Homo sapiens: one gene and its partners. The gene in region 2 interacts genetically with the main gene of each other region. Each region holds a gene or a part of one and is shown on either strand. Other genes may lie near its edges. The genes, in order: ATG7, ATG2A and ATG10.

The links.
Region 1: of ATG2A (region 2) and ATG7, changing one enhances a phenotype caused by changing the other (phenotypic enhancement), as found in Homo sapiens cells (one large-scale study listed by BioGRID).
Region 3: of ATG2A (region 2) and ATG10, changing one enhances a phenotype caused by changing the other (phenotypic enhancement), as found in Homo sapiens cells (one large-scale study listed by BioGRID).

Annotation. Positions count from the first base shown.
Region 1 is NC_000003.12:11,278,747-11,282,396, reverse strand, and holds part of ATG7 (ubiquitin-like modifier-activating enzyme ATG7), read right to left. Parts: exon of another isoform or gene 3,577-3,650; intron 1,404-3,576; 5' UTR 1,295-1,403; intron 228-1,294; exon of another isoform or gene 205-227; 5' UTR 1-204. UniProt on the Homo sapiens protein: E1-like activating enzyme involved in the 2 ubiquitin-like systems required for cytoplasm to vacuole transport (Cvt) and autophagy.
Region 2 is NC_000011.10:64,907,127-64,910,776, forward strand, and holds part of ATG2A (autophagy-related protein 2 homolog A), read right to left. Parts: intron 3,583-3,650; coding exon 3,490-3,582; intron 3,070-3,489; coding exon 2,914-3,069; intron 2,799-2,913; coding exon 2,555-2,798; intron 2,242-2,554; coding exon 2,145-2,241; intron 2,025-2,144; coding exon 1,865-2,024; intron 765-1,864; coding exon 622-764; intron 539-621; coding exon 399-538; intron 314-398; coding exon 129-313; intron 1-128. UniProt on the Homo sapiens protein: Lipid transfer protein involved in autophagosome assembly. Tethers the edge of the isolation membrane (IM) to the endoplasmic reticulum (ER) and mediates direct lipid transfer from ER to IM for IM expansion.
Region 3 is NC_000005.10:82,247,967-82,251,616, reverse strand, and holds part of ATG10 (ubiquitin-like-conjugating enzyme ATG10), read right to left. Parts: intron 1-3,650. UniProt on the Homo sapiens protein: E2-like enzyme involved in autophagy. Acts as an E2-like enzyme that catalyzes the conjugation of ATG12 to ATG5. ATG12 conjugation to ATG5 is required for autophagy. Likely serves as an ATG5-recognition molecule. Not involved in ATG12 conjugation to ATG3.

The DNA of each region.
Region 1 (3,650 bases), on a different chromosome or scaffold from region 2:
GTCAACCAGGGAACAAGCAGTCACATCCACAGTCTTCAAACTCTTATCTGTCCTTCTCATTGGTTACTTCCAGGAGCTGTTTTTCTTTTATTTTGGTTTCCTTCTGCTATAATATCCTTCACCTTCACATGCAATCTGGTGTCCATCAGCTTCAGTTTTTGAGAACGGATGCACTGGATACCAGCATTATGGGGTTTGAGAAGCCTACATGGGAGGGACAGTGACAGCTGAGAAAATGTGGGAAAGAGGAGAGAGGAAGCAATAATGCCAGGAAGATGGAGGGCAGTGTGCCTCCTTCTGAGTCCTTTTGTTACCTCCACTGATCAACAGTGTTGCCCATTTCTCTGTTCATCTGAGAGACACCCACCTGGATTTGTCTAAATCACTGTGGAGCCCTATGCCAACCAACAACTAAAATCTATGATGGTTTCCTAAAAGCTGGCTGAGTTATGAAGGCTTGCTTCTAAATAATTACATCTCTGTGGTTTTCATTTCTGGTATGTTTAAAGAATCCTGAGAAACGGGAGAAGTACTTTAAAACTGGGCCAAGCAAAGGCCTGATTTCCGATTTTCAAAATGTTTGATTTTTCTTTGTTTCTTTTCTCTTTTTTTTTTTTTTTTTGAGATGGAGTTTCGCTCTTGTTGCCCAGGTTAGAGTGCAATGGCACGATCTCGGCTCACTGCAACCTCTGCCTCCCACGTTCAAGCAATTCTCCTGCCTCAGCCTCCCAAGTAGCTGGGATTATGGGCGCCCGCCACTACGCCCAGGTAATTTTTTGTATTTTTAGTAGAGATAGGGTTTCACTATATTGGCCAGGCTGGTTTCGAACTCCTGACCTCAGGTGATCCACCTGCCTCAGCCTCCCAAAGTACTGGGATTATAGGCGTGAGCCACCACACCCGGCCTGATTTTTCAAAGATAAGAATAAAGATGGGTTCTAAAGACCACTGGACAGAAGTTTTGCTCCCAGGAAAGGCCCATATGGGCCACTCTAGTCCACTTAGCACCTTTGTACAATCAGAAAATTACACCTCTGCTTCAAGATTTTACTTCCTTTAGTTAGAGAAATGTTGTAATATACTGATTAGATTAGCTCAAGACATGGTAGCCTTCTCTGCCACTGTCATTACAAAAATGCACCCATGATACCTATGATATAAATGGAACCCCCTTTGATGTGGCCTCTTGTGCAGTGCACAGCCTGCATAACTGTATGAGGCAGCCCTAAGTAATCACAAGAGGCCAATATGGTTTCTCTAAGAAAAAGTCATGACAGAGTAACTGCATTCCTACCTTGATCAGGGAAGAATCATAGACGCAGGACATACAGGTCTCAGAAATGTCTCTCACAAGGCTGCTCTAGAAATCCCGGTAGACAAGGTGAAGATACAGGAATTGGATCCTGACATAATTAGAGGGATTAAGAACTGGTAAAATAATCTTATTCAAAGGATCTTGGTTACTGAATTAATTAATGTTAATTAGAAAGGAGCTAATAGCAGTACGTCTTTGGCTTAGTCTCTGGGCCTGTCCAATTTATTTTATTTATCCACATGAATGAATATTTATCAACATTTACTAAGTATTTCATGTGCACTGAACCCTGTGCTGGGGCTAAGAGCAGGGGGAATAGGCAAATAAACATATTCAATAAAGTATTCTTATTACCATATTTTACCAATAACTTGGATAATGATATAGATTTGCTTATCAATTTCATGACAAAAGAAGAAACAGGCAATACAAGTGACTAAAATTCAGGATAAAAAAAGATTCCAACCATCTGGAATGGCAGGCCTATTTTAACAAGATTTGAAATTTCATAGAGGTAAATCTAGGGCCCTAAATCTAAGTTCAAGAAAACAACTGGACAAGGCAGATGGTCTGCTAGACTGGAAAGGGCATAGGTTCATGAGCCAGAGAGACCTGAGTTCAAATCCTGTCTCTGCTACTTTCTAGCCACACCACCTTGGACAAGTCATTCAACTTCTCCGAGTCTGTTTCCTCTTCTGTTAGATGGGGATACCACCTACTGTGCAGAATTAGTGTGAAGATTCAACTAGAAAATGCATACATCTGGCCCATAGGAGACACTCAAAAAGCAGGACTAATATCATATTGTTTACCAATAACATGCCCGGCCAACATGGCGAAATCCCGTCTCTACTAAAAATACAAAAAAAGGGCCGGGCATGGTGGCAGGCGCCTGTAATCCCAGCTACTCGGAAGGCTGAAGCTTGAGAATTGCTTGAACCCGGGAGGCGCAGGTTGCAGTCAGCTGAGATAGCACTACTGCACTCCAGCCTGGGTGACACAGCAAGACTCTGTCTCAAAAAAAAAAAAGAAAAGAAAAGAAATGAAATTGGGGCTTCCATTAGTTATTTCTTCAATAAACAGTTATGTTACATACTTGTCCCTGTGCTACATTTCAGGGTTCAATGGCAAAAAAAAAAAAAACTATGGTCCCCACCTTTAAAGAGCTAACAATTTTGAAGCCAAAACAGACAACAAAACAGAAGAGGAATCGGAGTATAGCAATTTGGAGGTAAAACAAATACAGTATAGCCTGGCGTTTGTACAGAATGTTATAGGAGGAGGGATATCTAAATTAGACTGATGAGGCAACAGTGTTTCCTATAGAAACCCTTAAGCCAAGGTGGGGTTTTTTTGTTTGTTTGCTTTTTATTTTTTGTTTTTTGAGACGGAGTCTTGAGACAGAGTCTTGCTCTGTCACCCAGGCTGGAGGGAGGTGGCTCAATTTCGGCTTCACTGCAACCTCTGCCTCCCGGGTTCAAGCGATTCTCCTGCCTTAGCCTCCTGAGTAGCTGGGATTACAGGCACCCGCCACCATGCCTGGCTAATTTTTGTATTTTTAGTAGAGACAAGGTTTCACTATGTTGGTCAGGTTGGTCTCGAACTCCTGACCTTGTGATCCACCCGCCTCGGCCTCCCAAAGTGCTGGGATTACAGGCGTGAGCCACCACACCCAGCCAAGCCAAGGTTTTAAGAATATCCTATAGAAACCCTTAACCCAAGGTTTTAAGAACATCCAAGTAGATTCTCAACAGGGGCCCTACTGGCATGCTGGATGGAACAATTCTTTTTTGTTTAGAGCTATCCCTGCACACTGCAGAATGTTGAGCATCTCTGGCTCTCTCTCAATAAATGCAGTAATGCCCTCTGGTCAATGTCACAAAACAAAGCAAAATAAAACAGCTCCACAAACTTCTAAACCCACCCCTGATGGTTGAGAAAGGGAGGGTTAGATGACAGCACTAGCCCCATGCAAGGACCCCTGGATGAGGAGGCTAGAGGTAGGGAGTGGGGACTCTCCAGGCAAAGGGAGGAAGCTGACTCAGCTCCACATCATCAGCTGCAGAAACACCCCATGGCCTCTGCATAAGCTTAGAATTTTCTTGGCCACCTCCACATACCCATCATCTAGTGAATTTCTTTGCTCACTTCAAATCACAGCTCAATCATCACTTCTGAGGGAAGCCTTCCCTGACTCCCTCAGCTCTGGATTAGGTCGATCCTCCTGTATTCTAGTCCTCAAAGAGCACCAACTACCTTACCTTCATAGCACGTATGCAGTTATCCTCCTCAGTAGAATAAAAATTCTATGAGAAAGGAACCATGTCAGCTTCTC
Region 2 (3,650 bases):
GGGCTGGCGCTGCCCACTCAGGCCTCCTGCTCTCCACATTCTTGACCTGGAGCTGCTCGCGCTGGTCTTGCTCTGCCGCCAATGGGAGCTCTGAAGTTTGGGGCCCGCCTGCCCGGGGCTGCACTCACCTTGGTCTCACAGAGGGCTGTGATCCGCCCCTTCAGCACTGTCACCAGTGTAGAGAAGGTGCTCTGCAAGTGAAGACTTGGGGCCTCAGGGGCAGCGGCCTGTGGGCCACCTGATGCCCCCACTGAGAAGAAGTGGGCATCCTCGTCATCCGAGTCCGAGTCTGGGGTGAGATCAAAGCAGTTGGCTGGGAAGGAGACCGCGAAGGGCTAGCCTGGCCCTTCCCAGACCTGGGGGTCCTCCCTCTAGCCCAGCGTTAGCACCTCTCATACCCAGCTTGAAGGCTGACTTGCACATCTTAAAGCTGTCGTGCCAGAAGCCTGAGGGGCCGGGGAAGCCCGAGGGCTGGGCGGCGGGGTCGGGGGTGGGAAGCAGATCTGCAGGCTCCCACATGAGCAGGTCGTTGTTGATCCTGAGATAGGCGGGTGGACAGCAGGTAAGGGAGGCCAGGCCCACCCAGTGTCCAGTCCCGCCCTGCTGGCCCCGGGTCTCCACCTGTTGTAGATGCTCTCGTAGACCTCCTTGCTGGGCAGAAAGATGTGGACACTGGGCAGGATCACTTCCAGGCTGCAGCGGGACAGTGCCAGGGTCCGGCTCTGGAACGTCCTCATCTCCTCAGGGTCTCCAGGGATCACCATCTGGACAGGGTGAGGTGGAAAGAGCAGGAGAGTCATCTTAGAGACGCTGGCTGGGGCCTGTCTCTGGTCTCAGTCCTGCCCTCCTGTCGTTCATCATTCATTCATTCATAGGAGCCCTTCTCTACTGGGGATGCATGATAGCCGTACAGATACAGTGCTGATGGCACACCTGTGCTGTTCTAAGGGCTTCAGGTATGTTAACTTCTTTCATCCTCACAACAGGCCTGTGACACAGGTTATGGTTAGGCTGGGCGCGGTGGCTCACGCCTGTAATCCTAGCACTTTGGGAGAGTGAGGAGGGCAGATCACTTGAGGTCAGGAGTTCGAGACCAGCCTGGCCAACACGGTGAAACCCTGTCTCTACTAAAAATACAAAATTAGGCCAGGTGCGGTGGCTCATGCCTATAATCCCAGCACTTTGGGAGGCTGAGGTGGGTGATCATTTGAGGTCAGGAGTTAGAGGCCAGTCTGGCCAACATGATGAAACCCCGTCTCTACTAAAAATATAAAAATTAGCCGGGCGTGGTGGCACGCGCCTGTAATCCCGGCTACTCAGGAGGCTGAGGCAGGAGAATCGCTTGAGCCTGGGAGGCGGAGGTTGCGGTGAGCCGAGATCATGCCACTGCACTCCAGCCTCGGCGACACAGCAAAACTCTATCTCAAAAAAAAAAGAAAAAAAAAGAGAGAAAGACAGGTCATGGTGCCCATTTTCCAGGGGAAGAAACTCATCTATAGGTAACTCTTCAAGGTCAGATAACTCCCCAGGGTGATGACACAGTCACCAAGTGGCAGAGCCTGGCCCTTAACTGCCTTTCTAAGTGTACAGTGCTGATCCACGGGTCAGGTGGGGCAGGACCTGATCTTTCCAATCGAGGACCCATGCTCCCCAGGGGCCTGCCCTCACCAGTGCCGTTTCAGAAAGACTCTCTGACTGGCTGGAAAGAATGGAAGAGCCGAAATCCTCACTGGTGTTGGGTCAGCTCATGCCCACCCCAGGTGGTCGTGCTGCCCTGGCCCACAGCCACACAGGTGGCTCCTACGGCAGGAACCCGGGCGGTGGGCGGGAGGGGGTCCTGGGAAGAGGTGGGGCCAAGTCTCACCTCCTCTGTCTCATACATGGTCCTCTTAGAGGAGAAGGGCGAGGGCTCAGGTTCCCGCAGCTCACAGGGACTCTCCACTGACAGCTCCAGTTCCTCTCCCTTCTCCGGGGCCACCTCCCACTGTGTGCTGCTGGACTGGGGGTTCACAGTCACCACTACCCTGCCGGGGCACAGGCCTGTTACTGGCCTGCAGGGCCCCCGGCACCCAGTTCCAAACTGGCCCCCTGCCACCCCCAGCAGAACCCTCCTCTCCTGGGCCCAGTCCAGAGCCCCTACTTACTGGGGCAGGAAGTACTTGCGCCCAGTGCTCTTGGGGTCCAGGGCTTTGGAGACACGCAGGCAAGGGACAGGTGGCTTCCCTCCATCTTCATAGATACCTGGAGGGGGATGGGGAATTAGGGGGGTCATCACTGCTGCCTTTTCCTATTTCTTCCCCAATGCCCAGGTCGGCTCAGAGCTGTGCCCCCGACTCCACACACACCTTGGTGGGCAGAGAAAGCCAGAGACAAAGGGTCCACCCTACTTGTCGGTGAGGAGGCCGGGGACAGGCAGTGCTGGGACCCCAAGAGCTGGTAAAGGCCTGGGCCAGGGACTGCTCGGGTTGTGACTGGGCCCCTTCCATAGCCCCAAGCCCATCTCTCCCAGAAGCCAGGCCTCTTGCCCCAAGTTCTGTCACTCGGGGGCTCTCACCATGTAGGTCGGAGCAGGTGAGTTCCAGGTGGGTGGGGACTGGGGGACCAGGCCCACTGCTAAGCTCTGACCGGAACTGGGGCTCACTCAGCTCCAGCCGAAGCTGCTCAGCCCGCACGGCCTGGCCCGCCCAGGGGTCCGGCTCAGGCCGCAGGTCGGCAATGGGGAAGCGCAGCCGCAGCGTGGCCCGGGGTGCAGAGAGCCGAAATACCGTCTGCTGCTCCATCGCCGGCAGGGGCTCTGTCTGCAGGAGGATTGGGGGTCAGAGCAGCCGTCGGAGCCCCTCCCACTGTGACCAAGAGCCGAAGGACCCAGGCCCTGCACCCACCCCCGGCCTGGCCCTGGCAGGGGCCTCTCACCAGCAGGCCGGCTGGAGGCTCAGCAGGTACGGTGGCCAGGCGCAGTAGGGCGGCCAGCCGGTCCAGGGCCCCCAGCTCCACGTCCGCCTGGAAGTTGGCCAGGTCCAGGGCCAGTTCTGAGTGGCAATGGCAGGCAACTGAGCGCCGGGGTCGGCTCTGAGGGCGAGGGCGTTCAGGTCAGTGAGGGCTGAGTGGTACTCAGCGGGTGGGACAGGAAGGCCCTCTCTGGTAGTGGGAGAAGAGCTGGGGCAGGGGCCACGAGAGCACTAAGAAGGCCTGCCCCACCTTTGCCCGACGCGCACAATGTGCTTGTTTACTTATAAAAGCCACCCGACATGCGCCACTCTTAGCAACAGAGGCCAGCCAGGGGGCCATATTGAGATAGGGCAAGGGCATGACCAGGCTCAGAGACTGGCATAGGAAGGGCCAGGCAGGTATTTGAGGGCCCCAGCATGGAGAGATGTGGAGCACAGGGGAAGAGGGACAGGGCTGGGCAGCAGAGGAGGCCCTGGCAGAGGCCAGGGTGGGGTCAACACGCCATGGGGACAGCCTGGTGGCCTGGAGCGGGTGGGTTACCTTAGGCACACGGCGCAGGATCTGTGTGTGGCGCAGATGGGCGCAGGGCCGAGCTGAGGCCTGGGAGCCCAGCGTACCAGGAAAGGTCAGGATCTGGGATGGGACCCGGGAGGCACACAGGGTCAGGCCTGGCCCCACAGCCACCCAAACCTCCAGACCCC
Region 3 (3,650 bases), on a different chromosome or scaffold from region 2:
GCTAAATACACCAGCAGATGACGGGGCCCGTGAGAAACTGCCGAGTGCACCCATCCAAGGCCATGCTGGCTACTCTGCTCCAGCCAACTGTCCCATGTGGGAATGCAGGTTCAGCATGCCAGACCTCCCTATTTGTGAAACTAACCTAGAAAAGCTGAAGTTTATGTTAAACCTCCTACATTTAAGTGTTGGCATAATTTATTTTTAAACATGGAGTGGGACAAGTAAAACAGGCTTGTAGGCTGGATTTAGACTAGGGGATGCCTAGTTTCTTCTCTTGGCTTCTTCTCTCAGCCAACCCAAGGGGAAGCTGAACTCAGAGCTGTTGATGGGATGAATTATGTGGCTGTCCTTGCTGCCTCTACCCCTCAGCTCCAAACATTCATGTCTGTATGCTTATGCACATATCCACTCACAAGAACTGGAAGGGACAATTCCTCTTGTATTGGTGACACTGGGTATGGAGATTTGGGGTGGTGGTGGTGAGGGATGAGTTATCCACTAGTGATAGGTTATTGCATGTATCTGGCATTTTTAGCACCACCTGGCATTTGTTTCTCCCTGAGTGCCATCTCCAGGTGACTCTGACCAGTCGCCTGATTCTTCCAGCAAGGCATCAGCTTCCTCTCTACAGCTCTCTTCCCAACCTTCATTCCCATCCCTAACTGGGCCCTGGGCTCAAAGCCCTGATGTGTTGGGCCTATGCCAAGTCCTCCTGTCCAACTTGAATCTGGTTTCCCTTACCTGCCTTAAACTAATATTTAGCAATTCAACATATATTAATCAATCATCTTTTTTATGTGTCTGCCAGAATACTTCTAGCTATAGTTATAGAGACCACTGCATCTCTTAGATAAACAATGTTCCTGATCCCATGGAACTTAGATTTCAGTGCAGGAGACAGCCAATAAACACACAGAACGAATAAATAAGATAATCCAGATAATTATAAGCCCTACAAAGGAAACACAACAGGGTAACATGATTCTGGAGGGATTGTGGTGACATTAGACTTGGAAAGGGAAGGCCTGAAGGAAGAGGTAATACAATGGACTGAATGTGTGTATCCCTCTTAGGGTTACACCCTAAGAGGTGTAACTCTCACTCTTTTCCTATCATGTGGGGATACAGTGAGAAGATGGCATCTATGAAATAGGAAACGGGTCCTCACCAGACACTGGATCTTCCAGTGCCCTCATCCTGGATCCTGTAGCCTTCAGAACTGGGAGAAATAAGTGTTGGTTCTTGAGCCACCCAGTCTATGGTATTTTTGTTATGACAGCCTAAATGGACTAAAATAAGGTGAAACTTAATCAAAGATCAGAACGACAAGGAAAAAAACAACCATGCAGAGATTTGGGAACAGAATGTGGGGGCAGATGACCCTATGGGGGAAATGAGCATAGAAAATATGCAGGAAAAATGCAAAAAAATTTAGAATTATCCTGGACTAAAACAATGACTGTTTAGAAAGCTGGGATTTAAAAAAGATAAATGTAGTCTAAATTCTTTTGGGATGACTTACATAGTTGCCAATGGAAGGAATAAAGAGGTATAATCCAATCTTATTGATGTAAAGTACATGTTGACTTTAATGAAATGAAACCTACAGTTACAAATTTCCACTAGACGGAAACACTCCTAATAGGGAGGATCAGTTCAATCACGCAGCCTCCACTCTCTCCAAGACTCACTTTCCCTTTGGCATCTCTTTCTTATCTAAGAGGTGGATAGGCACTTACAGTTCAGGGGACCATTTTCTTAGAGGAGTCTTAGGACCATGGCACACTGCAGCTCTGCTCATTTGATGCTGCTTTGTAAAGACATGGACTTTACTTCTATAAGTCATCTTTTTTTCATTCCACATAGCAAGTGGGTAAGCACATGCATGAGCTCTATGGTTAAGACTGTTTGAGATCAAGTCCTGCTCTACCACTTGGTAGCTGTGAGCTATTGGGAAAGTCACTTAACCATTTTACGTCTCTGTTTCCTCATCTGGTAACTGTGGCTAATGATAGTATCTGTCTCAGAGATTGACTGTGACCCTTCAATGAGATAATACCACAGAAGTACATAGAACAGTACCTGACACATAGCAGACACTTAGTTGGCTATTAGTATTTAACCCATTAATATCTAAACAGAAAAGAATAACAGCCAGACATTCAGAAAGTAGTCTTATGGTACCCTATAATAAAGCCAAATTTCAATCTAAAAATAGGACGTTCCTGTAAATTAAGTAGCATATTAAAAGCATCACTGACCAGTATCTAAGTGTTTAGGAATATTTGACAACTGTTTATAAGTGAAAGGAAGAAAGGTCTGAATTAGTAAAAGGTCTAGGTCTATATGGCAACTAGAACTATCACTATATTTGTATTCAGGTTTAAAACCAAATTAATGAAAAATAATTTAAATGAATTTAAATTAAAATAAAAGTTTAGGTACTTCAAAAACACTTCAGTAATCTACAACATTTTAATATTCATTTTTCCTCAAAGAACATAAAACAGTCATATTAGCATTTAAGGTTATGTTCTAATAGAATAAAATGCATGGCAATGTCATTTAAAACACTTTTTAAAATAATTGAGACTTTCATGCCTTTGAAGAGCTTTTAGAATAGCTTAAGCATTTCTTTAATGCAGGTTTGGCCATCTTTAAAAAATTCTTTATCCTTTACTATACTGAGACCTTATATTTATATAATTAAATAGAATATATTAAAATGAATGATGGTCTTTAAAAATTAAAAGTTTAAATTTATTAATAAATTGGATTTTAAAATAAAAATTATATTGTTTTGGCAAAATGCTTTTGGTTCAAAAGAATCAAGCCTATAATATGCTGATCAGCTTAAAATAGGAATTATAAGATATGTAATCTTTTAGAAGAATTTTATAAATTAATAACAACAGAAGTGGACTTCCAGCTGTGATAGAATAAAGAGGTCAGCAAATCCTCTCCCCAGAAATTAAATATAAAAATGAACAAAATTGTCAAAAACTAACCATTTTTGGGTCCTGGAAATCAACCAAGGGCAAATATAAAATCTGAGACGTGTTTAGTTCATGATAATCTGCTAAACTTCAAGTTAGAAACAGAGGGAATCTGAAGCCTTCTTGCCTGGAAGTACTTCCATATCCCCTCCTCCTCTTCCCCAATGTCCCCAGACACTCCATCAACAGAAGTTTTACCAGAGCAATCTGGCCATAAGAGCCAATAACTGTGTAGCCAGAGGGGCTGGCCTGATTTCCAACAGATAGCTAAAACTATTGCTCAGCAGCACTGTCAATAAAAATAGCAAAATAGGTACTAAATGAAAAGAAAAAAGCTGCAGCTCTGCTAGCCAGAGGTTGCAGTCCCAGTTGAGGCAAGCAGCAAACTACCAGTAATTTAATGGGGACATTCTGGAAATAAGACAGCCACAGAAGGGGTAGATAAGTTCTCCAGGCATCACTAGCTGATGGGAAGGGGATGTTCAGTGGAGTCACAAGAAGGCCTGATAGGAAGTAAGAGCTAAGGCCAATATGAATACTACTTGAGTTTTTAGCGTGTTCCCAATCCACGTACACATCCATTGGCAAAAGAAAAAAGCATTATAGGCTTGAGGTATTTGAGCATAATTTCTGTCCAATCATTGGCCAACC